Linked DNA regions of Homo sapiens. The protein of the gene in region 2 interacts with the protein of the main gene of each other region in a biochemical or structural test. Each region holds a gene or a part of one and is shown on either strand. Other genes may lie near its edges. The genes, in order: CHUK, NFKBIB, IKBKB and DNAJA3.

Region 1 (3,783 bases), on a different chromosome or scaffold from region 2:
GTAGAGAAATTTAAAAAGGAAAGACAACAATATCCTTACGAGGCTGTAGACAGGGTAGTGGTGAGGACCTTGGGCTCTGTAATAACACAAAAATATTTCAAGTCTGAGTGCCACCACTTAACTAGGCATGTGATCTACCAAGTTATTTAACCTCTCTCAGTAATCTAATTGGATGACTAACAGTCCCTGCTTCACAGAATTGTTATTAGGATCCAATGAAATAACGAAAGTAAAGAAGGTAACACAGTGCTTGGTACATGGTAAAAATTGAATACAGGTGGGCTATTAATTTTTATTTTACTATATTCAAAATAAGCTCAATCCATTAAACTGGAAAGTAAAGGCAAGGGTGACTTCCAAACTTGAAGAAGCATCATACCTCCTTATAGTAGATTAAATGTGAGTAAATACTTAGATCTAACTTCAGGAATGTCCTGAAGTCTTTGGATTAAAAAAAAAAAAAGCAGAGATATTTGGTGCCAAGCATACGTGAAAGGTTCCTAAGAGAAGAGGCATCACCAAGGTTCCAACACCTCCAAGAGGCCAACAACTATTTTCACTAACTAAAGAGACGGCACACACAACTCAACACAAGGTTCAGACTCTTGGCCTTTAAGTCTTTATTGGAATGAAATTTGGATGCTGGAAACAAGAAAACTGCTTAAGTTACCAATGAAATGAACATTTTAAGAGTCAATTCACAATTTCTGGTTCTTCTCCAGATGACTCATTTAAATTGGGGGAAGGAAAATAAGTTTTAAAAATATATATACTTTCTTTTTTTTCTTAAAGTGGACCCAGGATGTGCATGTATGTGTTTTGGATGTGCTTCATAAGAATAAAATAATAAGTGTTAACATATTATGTATTCACAGCCTGTATCTTTGCTAGATACTATGATGGAAAAACAGACTTGAACAAGACAGGTGAAGTCTAGGAGCTGGGTTAAGTATGAAAAATGAAAAAAAAGAAAAAGAAAAAAAAAGCAGGTGCTGTTCCTTCTCTGATGGAACCACTGTTTAGCAGAAGGGACAAAAAAACTAAACACAAAACTACAGTTCAGTGTGGTGAGGTCTGAAATGGAAAAAGTAAGACTGTTATGGGCATACAGCAAAGACACCAAAGCTCAAGGACTAACTATATCAGAGAGACTATATTCAATAGGCATGAAACATTACTTCAGGTTTCACCTACCTTTCCACCAACATCCTGAAGAACTATGTTTTCAGGTTTTAGATCTCGATGTATAATTTTGTTTTCATGCAAATATCGAATCCCAGACCCTAAATAAAGTTTAAAATATACTTTAAAGTAACAGAAATCATTGAGTTAAAAGAAAAATTCACCTCACATTTTGTACAAATCTACTCTGATGCTCAAGTTTATATGGATCATCGTAACTACACAACTAATACTACAGTGTCCAGGTTTTCTTCACAGAAAAAAAAGTAACATTAAACAAATACTACAAAATTATACTATATGTTCATTTAACTCATTAGAATTAACACCAAATAGAAATGCAACAAGCAATTGGGAAAATCCCTGAAACTCTTATAAGCCTCTTTCTCCCACCTAAATCACTCATTTCAATTGGACTTTAGCCCTCATGACCTTGGAAAAGAGGCAAAACCAAAATCTATGGGGAAACAAATTTTTGGTTTTTGAGGTTCCTCCAAAAGGTTAGGTACTGGTTATTTTAGGAATTTTTCTGGAGTCATTCTGATTAAGCAGAGATTTTTCACCCTGAAGAGTTGACTTGGCTGGGTGCGGTGGCTCACGCTTGTAATCCCAGCACTTTGGGAGGCCGAGGCGGGCAGATCACGAGGTCAGGAGTTTGAGACCAGCCTGGCCAACACAGTGAAACCCCGTCTCTGTTAAAAATACAAAAATTAGCCAGGTGTGATGGCGGGCACCTGTAATCCCAGCTACTCGGGAGGCTGAGGCAGGAGAATCGCTTGAACCTGGGAGGCAGAGGTTACAGTAAGCTGAGATCGCACCACTGCACTCCAGCCTGGGCAACAGAGCTAGACTCCGTCTCAAAACAAACAAACAAAAAAGAGTTGACTTGAGGACCCATCCCTCAAGGAGATGTAATTCCACTGTAAACAAAATTACTATGTCAATGGTAGGGGGGGAGAGAAATTGAGTAAGGTCATTTCACATGATTTTTTTGTCAGCTATTGGAACATCTATTAGACAAAAAAAGGACTCTTAGCCACAAATAAATAATAAAATATCCTAGTTTCTTTTTGTGTGTGTGTGACAAAGTCTCACTCTGTTGTCCAAGCTGGAGTGCAGTGGTGCAATCTCGGCTCACTGCAACCTCTATCTCCTGGGTTCAAGCGATTCTCCTGCCTCAGCCTCCCGAGTAGCTGGGACTACAGGCATGCGGCATTGTGCCCAGCTAATTTTTGTATTTTTAGTAGAGATGGGGTTTCACTATGTTGGCCAGGCTGGTCTTGAACTCCTGACCTTGTGATCCGCCTACCTTGGCCTCCCAAAGTGCTGGGATTACAGGCGTGAGCCACCGCACCTAGCCAAAATATCCTAGTTTTAATTTAGCATCAATAGTAATAGATTTTTATAACTTCTTATAGATGTTGAAATTCTATAGACTTTGTATAGTGTATCAACAATTCTCCTGAATTCCCAAAAAGATCTTTTATGGGCCAAAGGGACATTACATTACAATGGTATTTTAATACTGATACGTACCTATATCACTTAGTAAAGAAAGTATCTGGCTTTCTTTAAGTCCACAACAATTTTCTGGTTTGTTGAGCAGCTAAAAAAAGAAAGAAATCTAAAAATCTGTTCTGCAAATTGCTGGGCTGCAATAGTGACCACACATTAATTACTATACTCTAAAAGAATATTCAAATGAGAAAATAAGTCATAATAAAATACAAGGGAATAAAATTACCAAATCCATACTGAGGGCATGTAAATTTCATGATAAGGCTCATAAAAGTAAAAAGAGGCAAAAAGCATTTGAAACTGGAAAAGGCTGACAAATCTCATGGATATATATAAAAATGGTCATATGGGCACATTTAAAATTAGGTAGAAAAAAAAGATTGCAATACAGAAAACAACTTTTTATAAGCACCTTAACCACTGAAATTTTCATCTAACACCATTGCTATAGTCCCATCAAACAGCAACAACAAAAATGCATTTTCTAAATCAGGAGTCAACATTTTCTGTAAGGAACCATATGGTAAATACTTTAGGTTTTGCAAGTCACATAGTCTCTGTTAAAACTACTCACTTCTGCAGCCATAAGAAAGCAGCCATAGACAATGTGTAAAGAAATGAATGTGGCTGTGTTCCAATAAAACTTTATTTACAAAACAGGAAGCAGACCATAGTTTTTCCGATTCTTATTCTAGTTTATTATATTTAACATGATTCAAACATTGCTAAAGTTTGTGATTTACTCTCTCTCATCTCAAAACATCCACACTACCTTTCGGAGATCTCCTCCAGAACAGTATTCCATTGCTAGAAGAGGCACATCATGAATCAAAATATTCAATTCTTCAGGAACATCACAGGCCTTTACAACATTGGCATGGTTCAACCTAATAAGAAAGAAAAACATTACAATAAAAAAAATTATTTCCAATAAAAAGGGACTGGATTTGAAATGCTACTTAATTGTGGGTGGATGAACAGAGGGGGAAAGATCAGTATTATTTATAATATTCTAATTTCTGATTTGTATAATTAAAAATTAGTAATTTTTTAAAAGAAAACACACATAAAAATACCATCACT
Region 2 (4,276 bases):
TGACTACTCGACTCTGCTGTGTCAGTGCAAAAGCAGCCACTGACAATATGTAAATGAGTGAGCTTGCTTGCGTTCCAAAAGAACTTTATTTATGGAGCTTGAAATATGAATTTCATACACTTTCACTTGCCATATAATATTATTATTCTTTTGATTTTTAGAAACTGTTTAAAAATGTAAAGACCATTCTTAGCTCACAACCATACAAAAGCCATATAATATTATTATTCTTTTGATTTTTAGAAACTGTTTAAAAATGTAAAGACCATTCTTAGCTCACAACCATACAAAAGCAGATGGCTGGCTAGATTTTGCCTGGAGGCCATAGTTTGCCAACCCCCACCTTAAAGCAACCACTAACATAACAAAAAGAGGAATATCTAATAAGCAAACAAAAGAAATAAAATGAGGCCGGGCGCGGTGGCTCACGCCTGTAATCCCAGCACTTTGGGAAGCCGAGGCGGGCGGATCACAAGGTCAGGAGATCAAGACCACGGTGAAACCCCGTCTCTACTAAAAATACAAAAAAAATTAGCCAGGCGAAGTGGCAGGTGCCTGTAGTCCCAGCTACTCGGGAGGCTGAGGCAGGAGAATGGCATGAACCTGGGAGGCGGAGCTTGCAGTGAGCCGAGATTGCACCACTGCACTCCAGCCTGGGTGACAGAGCGAGACTCCATCTCAAAAAAAAAAAAAGAAATAAAATGAAAAACACTATACAGAAGGAGCAGGATTGAAAAAAAAGTAACAAAAACTATACCCAATAAAAGGCAAAAAGGAGGGAGGAAAAAGAAAACATAGGTAAGTAGAATATATATAATAGACATGGGATAAATTTACACAATCATATCAATATCAAATTAAATGTAAATGGTCTAAACACTAATTAAAAGGCAGAGACTGTCTGGGCACAGTGGTTCATCCCTGTAACCCAGCACTTTGGGAGGCCAAGGTGGGAAGAATGCTTGAGCTCAAGAGTTTGAGACCACAGCTGCACACAGTGGCTCACACCTGTAATCCCAGCACTCTGAGAGGCCACAGCGGGTGGATCACCTGAGGTCAGGAGTTTGAGACCAGCCTGGCCAACATGGTGAAACTGCTGTTGCTACTAAAAATACAAAAATTAGCCAGGTGTGGGGGCACGTGCCTGTAATCCCAAATTTGGGAGGCTGAGGCAGTAGAACTGCTTAAACCCAGGAGTCAGAGGTTTCAGCGAGCAGAGATAGTGCCACTATACTCCAGCCTGGGTGACAGAACAAGACTCTGTCTCAAAAAAAAAAAAAGAGTTTGAGAACATAGGGGGACAAAAAAATTTAAAAATTTGCCAGGCATGGTGGCATGTGCCTGTGGTCCCAGCTACTCAGGAGGCTGAGGTGCAAGGATCACTTGAGCCAGGAGGTTGTGGCTATAGTAAGCCATGATCATGCCACTGCACTCCAGCCTGGGCGACAGAGTGAGACTTCGTTTCAAAAAAAAAAGTCAGAACAGAGACCAATTGAATAGAAAGTAAAAAAAAATTAATGAAACCAAAATTAATTAATGAAATTTAATGAAAATTAACGAGACTATAAAGCTGGTTGAGATCAATATTCAGTGCCTCCTGGATCAGGCCCTGCTTGCATCACTGGGCATACAGCAGTAAACACAACAGACAAAAAACCCAGTACAATCCCTCATCTGGGCCTTTGCAACTGCAGTTCCTTCTCCTTGAAATGCTCTTATCTTGTTTATCTATTGCCTCATTTTCCTGCTTTATTTTTCTCCAAAGTACTTAACTACCTCTGACTTTATTTCCTTTTCTTACTTTCTATGTTTCTTTCTTTCTGCGTGTCTTTCTTTGTTTCTTCCTGTCTTTCCATTTCTTTCCTTCCTTGTGGTCTTATCAATCTGTTTATTTAGCTCCACTAAAATGTATGCTCCACAAGGGCTTAAGTTTTTGTTTGTTTTCTTCACTGCCTTTATCACTAGCACCTAAACGGAGCCTGGAACGTGGTAATGTGTAAAGAATATTTGTTTAACAGATGAATCCTTGGTCTCATGGAGCTAACATTCTTTTTTTTAATTTTCCTATTTTTTTACTTTAATTAGGAATTCAACATAGAAGAGCTTACATTCTCTCTCTTTGAATTTAAGATTTGAAGAACACTGCTCAGAAGACAGGATCTTAGAGTCAGGGACCAAGTATTAATTTCGGAAATCAAACTCTAGGGCTCAAATCGGGAACTAAGAATCAAAGATCATATTTGGAGGTTAGAAGTCAGGAGAAGCCACAGTTCTAACAGAAGTCTCAGGACTGGAGTCAGGTTTGGGTATCAGTGGATACAATGTGGATTCCAGGAGCTGAGAATCATAGTTCAAGAAAAGAAGGTAAGAAATGATTGGGTTAGGATCATAGCTAGATAGAAGATTGGTTTTGTTAAAAGTTAGGACTCGGGGGTTAGAGGTCAGGAAGTTCAGCATCGGAAGTCAGATTTAGGAGTATGAGGTTAGGAAGCCTCAGGGATCAGAGATTAATGAGGAATGTGACGCCGGGTCCTAGGGCTCCGTTTGGCAGCCTAAGGTTCACTCACGTGTCCCCATCCTCAGTGACGTAGCCGAAGACGAGGGGAGCCCACGACAGCCCCGGGCCCAACTCCGCGCCCAACCCAGGTCCTCCGGGGGCCGCTGCGTCCGGACCCAGGGAGCCCAGGCCGCTGTCGCACCATTCATCTGCGTCGGCAGCTTTTCCCAAGCACGCGACCCCAGCCATGGCCCCCGCCGCCTCAGGGGCCCCCCGCAGTCGCCCGCCTGTAGCTGGGCTTTGCCGGGAGTTCTGGAGCTTCCGCCCTGCGGGAAATTCCCCACCACGCCCCCTGATTCACCCAATGATAATATGCTGAATCGCTCACACCCCGCCCTCGTACTGCATCCTGACCAATCAGAGTATTCGGGAGGACTACAACTCTCTAGCCGTTCCCACATTTTCCGGGCGCCCTTTACCAACATGGCTGCTGACGCCACGCCTTCTGGGACTCGTAGTCCGGTCCTCGCGCGCTTTCTTACCTAACTGGGGCGCTCTGGGTGTTGTACGAAAGCGCGTCTGCGGCCGCAATGTCTGCTGAGAGTTGTAGTTCTGTGCCCTATCACGGCCACTCCCATTTCTGGTGCCGTCACGGGACAGAGCAGTCGGTGACAGGACAGAGCAGTCGGTGACGGGACACAGTGGTTGGTGACGGGACAGAGCGGTCGGTGACAGCCTCAAGGGCTTCAGCACCGCGCCCATGGCAGAGCCAGACCGTGAGTCGGGGATCCGGGTAGGAGGGTCGGGCCGCGCCGGGGCCTGGCTGAATGCTGCAGGCCCCGGGGCCCAAGGGTGGCCGCGGTGGGGCGGGAAGTAGGGAGCGCTTCGGGGAGTGGGATTCTGAGGGCTGTTGCTTAGCGATCTGTATCGCTAGGCTGGTGGGTTTCTGGGTCGCAGTGTGTTCAGGGTTCGTTTACCACATCCACTTGCCAAGTTGCCAATGATCGCGTGTTTCTCGCACCTTGGTTGCTAAGGTCCCTCGCTGCAAAGAACATAAGTTGCCCCGGTCCCGCTTGCTATGGGTACCTGATTGTTAGAGGCAACCAGAGGATGCTGAGGGACCCCTGCTGACCCCTCCTATGGCTTCCCCTTGTTCCGCGCCTCTCCTAAACCTACCGCCTCCACTGCACCACTGCACCTCCCTCCTAAACCTGCCTCCCAGCCAAAGCGTCTCTTCCCTTCTCTTTTCCTTTCTAAACTTCCCTCTGCCTTGTAAATCTAACCCTCCCCGCACACACACTCACACACTGTCGTGTCCTTCCTAACTCCTCCTGAGTGTTCCTTCATGCCCTGAATCCCCTAGGTAGGAGGAGGAGGATCGCTTGAGCCCAGGAATTTGAGGCTGCAGTGAGCTATGATCGCACTATTGCACTCCAACCTGGGTGACATGAGCGAGACCCTTTCTCTAAAAAGTAAAAAAGAAAGAAAGTAAGTCAGGGCCAGAAACAATGGCTCATGCTTGTAATCCCAGTACTTTGGGAGGCCAAGGTGGTTGGATCGCTTGAGCCCAGGAGTTCAAGACCAGCCTGGGCAAAAGCCCCTACTTTCTCCCTGTCCCCCTAAATCTTCCTCTCCAGCCTCTCTGCCCCTCACTAATCACCTCTCCCGGCATCACTTTGCATGTAGATAAGATCTTTTCTCCGTCCCCTCCCTCCCTCTGCTCCATTTTTACCACCATCCCATCCCAGTGTAACTAGGTTGGTGGGTGTTCTTGCCCCC
Region 3 (3,783 bases), on a different chromosome or scaffold from region 2:
TTGTCAACAACAAATTTTCACATATTTCCTCCTGACTTGTCATGTGTACACGTGTTTTATTTGTTTACTAACACACAGCATTCTCAGTGTAAGTGCGTATATTCATACAATAGTCTTACTTCTGAACACAGAGCAGATGACACTGACACAGCATTGTATTTAAAGATGTGAAGGCTCAGAATCCACATGAAGACTTAACAGCTACTCTATCTATTAACAGGTCCTTGGAGCACAGACCACTCCCCTACTCGTGCTAGGTCCTGACAGGCCTTCCTCTCGGAAGAGAAACAACACAGATCTCCCAGGCCCGGTGATGGGGCGCCAGGGAAACAGGGTACGTGAAGAGAAAGGAACAGACAGGCTCCCTCCTCCATCCAGGTGCCCCGGGCCCACTCACCACTGCACGGGCTGCCAGTTGGGGAGGAAGGGCCGGAAGCCCGTGATGCACTCAAAGGCCAGGGTGCCGAAGCTCCAGTAGTCGACGGTCACTGTGTACTTCTGCTGCTCCAGTAGCTCTGGGGCCTGCAGCAACAGGAGGGGGTACACCTGAGCTGCTCCTCTCTGGGGGGACCACGGCAGGAGGGGGCGGCCAGCCCATCTGCTTTCACCCCTGGCTTCATCCTAGAGGGCACTGGCACATGCATGCAGGGCGAGGAGGGCACCCCAGGCATGTTTAGCGGGTATATCATGCTACCATTTCTAAGACCTTTCTATGTCCCACTCACTCCAGTAGGTACTGATGGAGGGGCTAAAGATTCAGGGCCAGAGTACATCACACACCCATCGCTAGGCTTTAACTTCTCTCCTTTAAAACTGAGGGTTGCAGGCTGGACGCAGTGGCTCACACGTGTAATCCCAGCACTTTGGGAGGCCGAGGTAGGCGCATTACTTGAGGTCAGGAGTTTGAGACCAGCCTGGCCAACATGGTGAAACCCCGTCTCTACTAAAAATACAAAAATTAGCTGGGCATGGTGGTGTGCACCTTTAGTCCCAGCTATTCAGGAGGCTGAGGCACAAGAATCGCTTGAACCTGGGAAGTGGAGGTTGCAGTGAGCCAAGATCATGCCACTGCACTCCAGCCTGGGCAACAGAGTGAGACTCTGTCTAAAAAAAAAAAAGAAAGAAAGAAAGAAAAAAAAGGAAAAAAAAAAAAAGGGTTGCAGCATTTCAGGCGCTTATTGAAAACTAGCTTAAGGCAGGACACAGTCGTGGGCACTGTGTAGAAATGGGAAGAGAGGCTACAAATGTTAAAGGAAAATGATGCCAGGCTGTCCACACCAAATACACGCATTAAGTGCTGGTTGAACCCCTGAACCAGGTACCATGTGGTTGCAGAAAGGGCCAGGATATTTAGAAACAGGCAGGGAAAGTGTGATGCATGGCTGCTGCTGAGGCAGAGAGCGCTGGGGTGACCGAAGAAGGGGCGGCAGCACGGGGTGCTGGGGGTGCAGACTGGGCTTAGCAGGTGGGTGGAGACAGAAATGACTGGGGCAAGCAAAAGCACAGAGACAGGGTGGTGCATGGTCTGGTTGGAAATGTGAAGCTTAAGGAAGGGCCCGGGAGACCAAACCAAGAGAAGACATTCCGGGATGGGTAGGTCAACCTCTATGTCTGGTTATGGGCAGACGTTTTAGCTCATGTGAGTACATGACTTGACTCAGCTCCTGGTTAGAGCATGGGGTCCCCCTTGCTCGACTGCTGCTGAGCTGAGGAGGACTCCAGAAGGATCTACCAAATCACATGCCATATGGACACAGGCGCCTGAATCACAGCCCTCTGTGAGACCCACTCTGAAAGCCGCAGACTCCTTGAGTCACTCCCAATTGTGGTGGCTACTGCCATCATCAAGCAACCTATGACAAGTCTTGCTGGGCATTTGTGCTAAGCCCTCCTGGAATCTAATTGCCCTCTACATCTTCACTGCCCCTACCTCACCCACTCTTCCCTCCTGTTCAGTGTGATTCCTTCTCCACACAGTGTCAGGAGTGGGCTTTCCAAAGAGTTGCTCCTTCTCCCACTTAAAACCCATCAATCTCTGCAGAGGTTTTAAGATAAAGTCTAGAACTTTAGCCCAGCCCTGAAGGCCCTTCATAATCTGTGCTCTACCTTGTTCTCAGCTTCAACTCAAGACTCTCTTTCCCTTTTGTGCTCGGTTCCAGCCACACCTGCAGGTCTTCCTGTGTGTGATCCCTTTGCACGGAATTCCCCCTGCCGTCCCCCACCTCCAGCCCTTTTCACCTCCTTACCCTTCAAGTCCCAGACCAGGCTGAGGCCACCCAATATATATTCTTGCAACACCCTGCACTCTTGCTTTGTAACACTCACCACAACTGTAATTTCTTAGTTATCTGTGTAAGCATCACAGTAATGCTTGCTTTCCTGCTAAACCCTAAGCTCTGAAGGCCGAAAAGGGCTTGTCTTTTTTCCCCACTGCATCACCAGCCCTGAGCACAGTGCCTGACACAGACTACACTCCATCAATATGCTTGAATGAATGAGTGACTCAAACAGAAACCTAATATTCAGACCAAATAACGTAAACAAAGGGTGGGGAGCTCAGAGCTCTGACCCCTACTCAGTGGCCCCTGAAATACCTCATGGAAAGTGTGGCCTCGGCCAGGCTCAGTGGCTCCTGCCTGTAGTCCTAGCTGCTCAGGAGGCTGAGGTGGGAGGACCGCTCAAGACCAGCATGGATCTGTTTAAAACCCTTTCCTTTCAGAGAAGACACTGAAGCACAGAGAGGCTAGGGGATGGTGCAAGGCGCATGAGCAGAGCCCTCCGGACATCAGAGAAGACGACCACATCCCTCCACAGGGCATCTGGTGGCAAAAAATGCTGACTCGACCAGGTTATGGGTGTGACCTCATGCATCTCCAAAACATTCAGAGAGCCGGTGGGACTCAGGTGCTGGGAGCAAGGCAGGACAGGAGCCCCACAAATGCAGCAGCAGGGAGGAGCTGACAGGCAAACAGGCAAGGCCCACTTCTTACCAGGTACTGCAGGGTCCCCACGAATGATGTGCAAAGACTGCCCTGATCCAGCTCCTTGGCATATCCTAGGTCAATAATTTTGTGTATTAACTAAAACAAAAGGAAGGAGAAAGCTGAGGGTTATAAGAACACAATGTCCTTCTACGAGGATTCTGACTGCCTGGTGTTAGAGCAGAGGTATTTCTGAATTCCCAGGTACTATTAGATCCCAAACTCCTAAGAGCCACCAGATACACAAAAGAATGCCCTCGACACGGTAGATTCAGGGCTAAAAGAAAAGGCATATTGTAAAAATGCTAGGCACGTGTCCTCCCACACTCTGCCACGCATCATCAGAGGGAAGCTGAATGAACAGAACAGGCACCAGCCCTCAAGACAGCTAAACCCAGACTTGAAACAGGAAGGACCGGGCCAGCCTCTTCTCAGTAAATGCCCTCAGTTCTCAAATCTGAGCACCACTGACAGGAGTGAGGGTGAACTGGAACAAGGGCGAGCCCTGTGGTAGTCACAGGCCAGGCCTAGGTGCTAAGGGCAGCTGTATGGGAAGGGATTAGGTGATCTAAGAACTCATTCACTGTATTCCACTCAGCTGAGCCTGTGCTCACCACCCCAGCTGAACACATAGAGTGGGTGGGTAAAGACCACAATGTCAAGCTTGTGGGGCAGTCAACACCACGTCTGAGCCGGGTGGCCACTGAGGAGGCCACAAAGAGCTCTGGGGAAACTATAGGCTGGACCAGGCTTGGCAGCAGAGGCCAGCTCCCAGTGCCTCTTCCCAGCCACATCCACAACC
Region 4 (3,783 bases), on a different chromosome or scaffold from region 2:
ACCTTGACTTCCCAAAGTGGTGGGATTACAGGTGTGAGCCAGCACGCCTGGCCCGTTGCTTTTCTTGTTGATGTTACTAGCACTGTTAGGAGCTGGAGAGGTGGCCTGGGCAGAGTGCTGTGGGTACCTAGGGCGGGACATGCCTGACTCCCCTCGGGAGCACTCATGCTTTTTGTTAATTAGATAATTTCTTTTTTTTTTTTTGAGATGGTGTCTAGCTCTGTCTCTAGGTGGAGTTCAGTGGTGCAATCTCCACCTCCCAGATTTAAGCAATTCTCCTGCCTCAGCCTCCCAAGTAGCTGGGACTATAGGCATGTGCCGCCACGCCCAGCTAATTTTTGTATTTTCAGTAGAGACGGGGTTTCACCTTGTTGGCCAGGATGGTCTCTATCTCCTGACCTTGTGATCCGCCCACCTTGGCCTCCCAAAATGCTGGGATTACAGGCATGAGCCACTGCGCCTGGCCTAATTAGATAATTTCTTACTTGCTTCACATACACACTGGTAAAATCTGTTTCCCCTCCTGTAAACTGTATTTAGCATAGCCACAGTGACACTTGTTTAAATGACTTAGTGTAGGGTGTTTTAGGAGCTTTTCTGTACAGAAGCTTTGAGGGCATGGTCCTTAGGTTCTCACCGCTGCACTGGCTCAGGGTGTCCGCCCCTGCCAAGGTTGGGTCCCTCTCTTCCCATGTGCTGCGAGGGTGCTGGCTGCCTGTGAGTTCTTTCCAAAGCTTCCCGGCGGAAGCCTTGGCTGCTGACTCTGCTCGGTCCACAGGAGGCTAACGAGCCGGCAGCAGAGCCTGATCCTGAGCTACGCCGAGGACGAGACAGATGTGGAGGGGACGGTGAACGGCGTCACCCTCACCAGCTCTGGTAAGGAGTCTGAAGACTACATGGTGACACGTGGGGGCCTCAGAGCCCCCCAGGGTATGGACAATTCAGGGCAGCATGTTGGGGTTTCCACTTCGGGTTCTTCATGAAGCCTTTAAAATGTGCAGTTGAAAGAGGGGGGCTGTGGGCGGGGACAGCGGGCAGGGAGCCGCAGCCCCCAGTCCAAGCTTCGCCTCCTCTCTCTGTGTGTGTTTCTGTGCTGAGGTGAGAGCACCAGGGCACTTCCTGCAGGCAGCTCTGCGTGTCTCAGACCCAGTGTTCTGAGTTCTATTCTTGGTTCTGCCACTTGCCCTGTGACCTCGGACAAATCCTTCCCTGAGAGCTCCTGGCAAAAGCGTAAGGAGAGAGCATGGATTGGAAGGATTTGTGCACTTCCCACCTGGGACACTCCGCCAGGATTTCAGAGTGTCTTAAAACAACAGCAGCCACAGCAGTGGAGCCGCAGTCAGCAGACTCCGTCCGCCGCTTTAGAGCAGGACTCCCTCCAAGTTATCTAGCCGTGAACAGATGCACCATTTACCCTGAGCTCAGACATCGTGCTAGCGAGTGGCTGTGTTAGGGATCTGTCACCAGAACACCTGCTGTGGGCGCTGAGACAATGGCACCCCAGCTGCAGCCCCTCTTCCCATGGGGTCTGGGGCCTCTTTCCTGGGACTCCTGGCTCAGGGCAGGGCAGGCTGTGCCCAGGGGTCCTTGGTTCAGGCGGCATGTATTTCCTCCTCATTGCATCATTTTGTTTTTGTTTGGATCCTGGGTGGAGTTCTCAGAACTTGAGCAGCCTTAGATTAGTGCATGGTAATTCGTAGCAGGTGTTTGGAGCTGGGGGCCGATTTTCCAATAAAGTGGAGGATTTGGAGCTCCAGGGGCAGGGGCAGGGGCTGGGATGGAAGTCCCTGGAATTTCACTGAGCTCCTGTTGCTCCCAGGGGACTGGAATTCCTCTGTTAAAAAGCAGCTGCCGGCCGGGCGCAGTGGCTCTTGCCTGTAATCCCAGCACTTTGGGAGGCAGGGGCAGGTGGATCACTTGAAGTCAGGAGTTTGAGACCAGCCTGGACAGCATGGCGAAACCCCATCCCTACTAAAAATACAAAAATTAGCTGGGTATGGTGGTGCATGCCTGTAATCTCAGCTACTCAGGACGCTGAGGCAGGAGAATCGCTTGAACCCAGGAGGCAGAGGATGCAGTGAGCCAAGACCACACCACTGCACTCCAGCTTGGGTGACAGTGAGACTCTCTGAAAAAAAAAAAAAAAAAAAAAAAAAGGGCCTGGCGCGGTGGCTCACGCCTGTAATCCTAGCACTTTGGGACGCCGAGGAGGGTGGATCACGAGGTCAGGAGTTTGAGACCAGCCTGACCAACATGGTGAAACCCTGTCTCTACTAAAAAAAAAAAAAAAATACAAAAACTAGCGGGGCATGGTGGTGGGCATCCATAATCCCAGCTACTCTGGAGGCTGAGGCAGGATAATTGCTTGAATCCAGGAGGCAGAGGGTGCAGTGAGCCAAGATTGCACCACTGCACTACAGCCTGGGTGACATAGCGAGACTCTGTCTCAAAAAAACAACAACAAAAAAGCAGCTGCCACAAAACTCTGTAGCCCAACCAGGTTCCAAATGTCACTTATTTTAATGGTTTGGTACATATACTGTGTATATGTATACTATCTTTTGTTCTTGTTGTATCTCTTGAACTAAAATAGAAGTGGTAATAGAGTAGCTATTCCCCGGAACTCTAATCAGTGCACCTGTGGCTTCTCCTTCCTCAAACCCTACAATCACATAACATGCGAGATTGGTTCCATAGACAGCTGTCCTTCCCTCCTCCCGCCCATCAGGGTAGCTTGAGGTGTGCTACGGCCGGGCCCTGGGTGGGTTCGTGGGTGTTGCTTACTCTGTTGGAGGTTGGGTATTACTGGTCACCAGTTGATGTTTTGACCCTCTCTCTGATACTGTAAGTTGAAAGTTGATTCCGCCACCCACTGAGATCCTTTGTCACTTCCATGGTTACTTGTCCTGATCACTCAGCCTCACTCAGCTGTTCCCTCACTCAGCCAGGATGTCTTCTCCTGTGTGCAAGACACTGTCAGCTCTTCCTTTTAAAGATCTTGGTGAGGCCGGATGCAGCGGCTCACACCTATAATCCCAGCACTTTGGGCGGCTAATGCAGGAAGATCACTTGAACCCAGGAGTTCGAGACCAGCCTGGGCAATATAGCGAGACTCTGTCTCTACAAAAAATTTCAAAACTAGCCAGGTGCAAAGTAGTATGCACCTCTATCACCAGCTACTTGGGAAGCTGAGATGAGAAGATCACTTGAGCCTTAGTACTCAAGGCTGCGGTGAGTCATGACAGCGACACTGTACTCCAGCCTGGGTGCCAGGGCAAGACTCTGTCCCTAAGCATACACCGTCACATGTCAGTCTGCTGCCTGTGGGTGGTTAAGTCTCTCATTATACTGTGAAGACAGTTAGTTTTGCATCCACATATGACAGTATTACAGGACATATAATTCTCATGTCCTAAGAACTTAAGCAACAGTGGGATTTATTTATTTATTTGAGGCAGAGTCTTGCTCTGTGGCCCAGCCTGGAGTGCAGTGGTGCAGTCATAGCTCACGGCAGCCTCAAACTCCTGGACTCAAGTGATCCTCCCACCTTGGCCTCCCAGAGTGTTGGAATTACAGACATGAGCCACTGTGCCTGACCAGCATAGTTTTTGATGCGTTTAGTATCTTAATGTAGCTGCTGAAAACCTTAAGAGCTGACCCCGGTCTCCCAGAAAGACCATGGTGTGCTTAGAGACTCAGCACTTGCAGGGATAAACAGGTCCATCTTCTGGCGAACAGAGAGGGAACTGGGGGGGCTTGCAATTACTATGTGACTTTTTGAGT

Evidence for each region.
Region 1: of the proteins of NFKBIB (region 2) and CHUK, one has a biochemical effect on the other in vitro, tested with the Homo sapiens proteins (2 studies listed by BioGRID).
Region 3: of the proteins of NFKBIB (region 2) and IKBKB, one has a biochemical effect on the other in vitro, tested with the Homo sapiens proteins (2 studies listed by BioGRID).
Region 4: the proteins of NFKBIB (region 2) and DNAJA3 form a complex in vitro, tested with the Homo sapiens proteins (one study listed by BioGRID).

What each region holds. Positions count from the first base shown.
Region 1 is NC_000010.11:100,219,394-100,223,176, forward strand, and holds part of CHUK (inhibitor of nuclear factor kappa-B kinase subunit alpha), read right to left. Parts: intron 3,588-3,783; coding exon 3,473-3,587; intron 2,789-3,472; coding exon 2,719-2,788; intron 1,284-2,718; coding exon 1,195-1,283; intron 1-1,194.
Region 2 is NC_000019.10:38,898,503-38,902,778, reverse strand, and holds the start of NFKBIB (NF-kappa-B inhibitor beta), read right to left. Parts: upstream 2,811-4,276; 5' UTR 2,747-2,810; coding exon 2,568-2,746; intron 1-2,567. Other genes in the region: SIRT2 (NAD-dependent protein deacetylase sirtuin-2), read left to right, coding at 3,258-3,273. UniProt on the Homo sapiens protein: Inhibits NF-kappa-B by complexing with and trapping it in the cytoplasm.
Region 3 is NC_000008.11:42,305,640-42,309,422, reverse strand, and holds part of IKBKB (inhibitor of nuclear factor kappa-B kinase subunit beta), read right to left. Parts: intron 3,081-3,783; coding exon 2,991-3,080; intron 523-2,990; coding exon 398-522; intron 1-397.
Region 4 is NC_000016.10:4,449,622-4,453,404, forward strand, and holds part of DNAJA3 (dnaJ homolog subfamily A member 3, mitochondrial), read left to right. Parts: intron 1-778; coding exon 779-876; intron 877-3,783. UniProt on the Homo sapiens protein: Modulates apoptotic signal transduction or effector structures within the mitochondrial matrix. Affect cytochrome C release from the mitochondria and caspase 3 activation, but not caspase 8 activation.